Regions from separate parts of the Homo sapiens genome. Here region 2 is linked to region 1. Evidence: fine-mapped expression QTL. Tissue or cell type: whole blood. Region 1 holds a variant in brackets; the other region holds the start of a gene. All regions are shown on one strand. Distances are from middle to middle.

Evidence for each region. PIP is the estimated chance that this variant, and not a neighbour inherited with it, causes the effect.
Region 2: it holds the start of STARD8, and the variant in region 1 is fine-mapped to the expression of STARD8 in whole blood (TOPMed, PIP 0.98).

What each region holds. Positions count from the first base shown.
Region 1 is chrX:68,698,768-68,701,523 of GRCh38, reverse strand. All of the region lies in intron 2 of STARD8 (StAR related lipid transfer domain containing 8), which reads right to left. Among named protein-coding and RNA genes, the nearest start is that of STARD8, 52 kb to the right of the region's middle. The variant G/A (reference allele first, on the strand shown) is at 1,120.
Region 2 is chrX:68,646,717-68,649,216 of GRCh38, reverse strand. It overlaps STARD8 (StAR related lipid transfer domain containing 8), which reads right to left and starts at 1,551. Exons shown (of 15, transcript NM_001142503.3): 1 at 1,290-1,551. The coding sequence starts at 1,334.

The sequences.
Region 1 (2,756 bases):
AGGACCTGGGGACTGCCTGTCCAGAAGTGACTGATCACTGGTGCGTGTGATGAGCACTCAGGTGGGGAAGGAGACCCGAACCTCAGCTCTTGCCTCCTGGCCAGGCATCTGGAGAGAGGCATGGCCCAGTCATTAAAGATGTCAGGAGGTGGAGTCAGACCACCTGGGTCCTGATCCCAGCTCCATCACTCCCCGGATATGTGACCTTGGGCAAGTTTATTAAATAAAAGAGAGACAAAGATAGCAGTACCTACCTTATGGAATTGCCATGAATGCTAAAGAAGTTAAAATTTGCCAAGAATTTAGAAGAGTTCACTATTATTATTGGTGTCACCATCACTACTATAGCCTGTTGAGTGTCGCGAATGCCACTAAAGAAGGCCAGAGGAAGGGAGCCCTGTGGGTGGGCATGGCCAAAGGGAGCTTTTCTGGGTAAGGTGGACTCTGAAATGACTGCAAAGTCCAGACCGAATGCCCACGAGGTGGCAGGTTTGAGAACTGCCCACCCCCAGGTCAGTGAAAAACAACCAAATGACAGGACTGCAGAAGGTACTACCAAGCAACAATAATGGCAATAATTTTATTTATATTGTTGGATTTAATATTCAACAACTCCATGAGGTGGGTACATATCTCCATTTTAGAGCTGACAAAATGAAGGCTCAGAGAAGTTAAGTAATTTGCCCAAAGTCTCCCAGCACTGTGAACATGAGAGCTTGTGTACAGCTCAGGACGTATTTTACTTCTGCTCCACTCTGACCCCTTTTCCACATTCCCCTCTCTGTTTTTCCCATTTAGAAGGCCCTGCTGGTGTGGGCACTGCTCAGGACAGATGTTTGGGGACAAGCTCTTCCCACAAGCTCACTGCCTCTGCCACAGCCTGACTTGACCTCAGCCTGGAGCAGAAAGGCTGGCTGCAGGTGCCTATCTCACACCTCAGACAGGCCAGCCTTTGGCCAGCCCAGATAAAGGACAGGAAATCCTAGGCCACGTCCCTTGGAGCTCACTCTCTCACAGGAACAGAGTTGCAGCCAGGGCAGGGGTTCCTCTGTGGTGGGGAAGCTGCCGAGTCAGCCCCGGCTGCCATGGCTGCTGGGTGTGGTTTGGGGAAAACAGGGA[G/A]GGCTGAGGGTCAGGAGACCTGGGCTCCAAATCCTCCCTCACTGGAGACTGTTCTTCCCTTCCCTGGGCCTCAGGTGGAGACCACCACAGATCATTCTGGGGAAATCATACCATCTACTTTACAGGGCTGCTCTAAGAACACAATGGAATCATGGAAGTGAAAGTGCCTTGGCAACTGAAGAAATGGGAGGACTCATAGTCATCATCATCAACTGCCAGGGGAAGGAATGGCTACGTTGGTATTTCTCACTGTCTGATTCACTCTTCTAGGCCCCACTGTGGGCATGGCTCATACTCATTTCCGGCTTCAGTACTCCCTAAAATATCCCCTTCCCTCCACCCACCCCTGACCAACTCCAAAGATAAAACCGAGTGGCAGGAAAGCAGGGTACGCTGGAAGCCCCCCACATATTACATTGTATTTAACTCAACAAGGGGAACACCTACTAACACCAGGCTTGTCCTCCACTATGGGGGCACCAATAAGAAGGCCCTACCTTCCAAGGGCTCTCCAATCGTGAGAGCTGGCTGGACCTGAACCATAAACAAATCAGTGTTGTCTAAGGTATTTGCACCCAAGATTCTGGGGGTTAGGAGTCTACCTGTTGTGGTAACCAGAAAAGGATTATGGAAAAGTCATCTGAACAAGTTCAGACTATAAATAAACTAAGGGGAGTGAGGGGTTTCCAGTGCCCCATTTCCTGCCCCCACATGTTAAGGGGGCCATAAACAGTAGCATGTAGGGAGGACAGAGGACAGTGATGAGGCTGGGAAGGGGGCTGCTCCAGGTCTGAGAAGGAGCGCAGACGCTTGAAGGTTGTTTGGCCTAGAGAAGACACAGGTGCACTTGGGTTCCATCCTCAGATCCCTGAAGGTCAGAGAGAGCAGACAGGGTCCAGGTGGTCCCAGAGGGCACACTCGGAACCCAGGGTTAGAAGCCTCAGGGAGGCACAGTTAAGTTCAACATAAGAGAAAACTTTCACACATTCCAAAGACGAAAGCAACTTGCTTGAAACATATCACATTCCCAGGTATTGAACATGAGTGAGCAGGAACTGCACAAGTACCTGTCGGGAAGCCCCAAGCTTCAGAAGGAAAGTTGGACCTAGTGCCCTCTAAAGGTCCTTCTGCCCTGAGCTCTGCCTGCATACCTACCTCTAGAGGGGTTGTGGGAGAGAGCATAAAGGTGACTGGAGCTGGCTAGGCCCTTGGCTGCTTCCCACAGGGACCTAGGATCCCAGGAGCACCTTGGGCTGGTACGACCCAGGGGGAGCAGTTCACTCATTAACTTGTGGCTGAATGGGTCAGAGAGTGGCTGGCCACTAGGGACAGACACAGGCTTGGGGAGGGGCCAGAGAGCAAACTGCAGAAATGCCCAAGCACAAGGAGAACCCAAGCTGTGGCAATTCAGGGCTTGGCCAGCTCCAACTGACCCAGCCAGCTGAGAACATTCAGTGTCTGGGCCTGATTGAATTTGAAGCCAGCTCACCATTGCCTGGTAGATAAGAAAAGGGTCTTGAGTGGGGAGGCATACTTGCATAGCTGAAAGGAAGGCTCACAGACCACTGAGTCTGCCTGCCAACTGCCCTACCCACTTTATAGTTGTGGAAATTGAGGCCCAGAGAAAGCAAAAATCA
Region 2 (2,500 bases), 52 kb after region 1:
CTTCTCTTCCTTTAAGCCTCAGGCTCAGCCCAAATGTGACCTCCTGTGAAACCTCTCCAAGTCCCTCCCGGTGGAATGGATCTTTCCTTCCCAAAGGTCCCAGCATTCTTTCATCCTGTCTTACAGTCAGGCTAGTCGTTTGAAAGTCTTCCTACTGGGTTGGACTGTGGGAAACCACACAGCGTCAAGAAAGGCATGGACTTAGGAGCTCAGATCCCAGCTCTGCCAGTCATATCTGAGCAACCTTGTAAATATTTCTTAACTATTCACAGTGTCTTTTCCCTATCTATAAAAGCAGGAAAACAATGGGTTGTGCTGAGGATCACTGCCACATGAATGAATTAAAAGTGCCTAGGTCTGGTACATAGTGGATACTAAATAAATATTAGTTTCTTGGTTCTTGAGAGTGGAATCATGCTTTACACACACTTGTGGGTTCGGCTGTGCTCATGTATCCCCCATGGCCAGGATATAGTAGACACTCAACAAATATTTACTGACAAACTGACTATTTAGCACAATGTCTGGCATATAGTAGGTGCCTGGTAAATATTTGTCACTTTTCTTATATTCTCTTTGAGGACAAAAGCCATGTCCTTCTTTGTCTTCTTTTAAAAAATGGAGATGGGGGTCTCCTTATGTTGCCTAAGCTGGTCTTGAACCCCTGGCCTCAAGTGATCCTCCCACCTCGGCCTCCCAGAATGCTGGGATTACAGACGTGAGCCACTGTGTCCAGCCCTTTTTTGTCTTTGTGTAGCTCCAGTGGTGCCTAGCACAGAGTATGTGCTTTTATATATATGGATAGAAATTAATAATAATAATAATAATAGATACCATTGTTTGTGTGGATGCTCCACACCAGGCATCCTGCTAGGAAGCTTACACACATTATCTCCTGGATTTGCATACATTTGCTATGTAAACAATAACACCAACCTCATCACCCCGTAAGGTTGGTGTTACTATGGTCCTCATTCTAAAGCTGAGAGGAAACTGAGGTTCAGAGAGGTTAAGTATCTTGCCTTTGTGGCAAGATCCAGGAAGCAACAGAGGCGAGTTTTATTAAAAAGAGCCAACTAGCAGACTTGTTTGTATGGGAATGCAACAGAAGGTCACAGAACTGGTTAAGTGACAAAGGTGAGACTTGAACCCAAGCCTTTCTAACTCCGAGAGCCTCAGGTAGTCTCAGAAGCCCGTCTGGTCCGTTTTCCCAGCTGGTGCGCAGTGGTCCACATCTGCCTCCTTCCCCCCTGAGCAGCGGGATGGGCTGGGGCTGGCCAGTCACTTACCTTCACCTTCCTGAAGCAAGACCAGAAAACGTCCAGCAGAGGCATGGTGGCGCGTGGGGAGCTTCTAGGGCCGGCGGGGCTGTGCCGGGCACCGGCTCCTCCCTCTCTGGGGACGAGGCTAAAAGAGGCCCGGGGCTCGGCGAGAGCCAGCCCGGTCCCTGCGCTCCATGAGCCGGCCCCGCGAGGGGAGAGGCGGAGAGCAGCGGTTGCCGGGGCTCAGCTGCCTCGACAGCGGGCGCCTCCCGCCTCCTGGAAGGCCACCGAGGGAGGGAAAAAAGGAGGGAGGGAGAGAGGCCGGCTAAGGAGGAGGGACCAGGAGGCGGGTCACTGATTCAAACTCGGCACCGTTAGCCAGTTGGCTGGAACGGGACAGCAATGCCAATTGAAATTCCCTGAACATTACAGTTCCCCGGCTCCGGGTGTCCGGCCCTCCTGCCGGCTCCCCTGCCAGCCCCGCCACCTGCATGCTGGCATTGCCTGCCTGCTTGCTTCTTGGCTGACTGACACGCCAGCTCTCCTTGGGGACCTCTCGGTAGAGCCCAGACCACACAGGGCCTGTGGAAAGAGTGCCAAGGAAAAGGGGCAAGGAAGGAGAGCCCCGGCCCCAGCAGGACCGAACAAGGTGTGAATGCAGTCCACGGAAGGGGAAAAGCTTGCAGCCTTAGAAGCCCCTCTCAGACAGGTGCCCTGGCCCTGCCTCAGTAGATTATTCTCCAGCCCTCTGAAGTGAGGACTCTTGACTCACTGTGGCATCTCGGAGAGGCCCCTTCCTCCTGGGTCTCAGTTTTCCCAGCTGTACAATGAGATGCCGGGTTAGAGGTCTCTAAGTATCAAATCTGTTTGGGGTTAGGTACAGGGCAAGTCTCAAAGAAACTCCACTCTGGACAATCACAGTTCCTCTCAGAACTCCCCTGCTGCTCCTGGGAGTCCATAGGAAGTCAGGTCTTGCCCCAAAGAGAATCTGAGCCCTCAAATGCCATTTCATCCATCCCCCTGCCCCAGGGCATAACAGCAGCTCTCTCCCAGCTCAGATAGACTGGGTGTATGCCCTTTTCTGAACATCTTCTGAAGAGATGATGGCTTCCCTCCTTTATCCAGTCCCATGCTCAGGACCCTCTAAGCCCAGAAGTTTAGCCTGAAATCTAAACTTGAACCCTCTGGATGCCCTGAAAGGAAAGAAAGTCAGCAGCAGGCAGTTCTAGAGGCTTTCT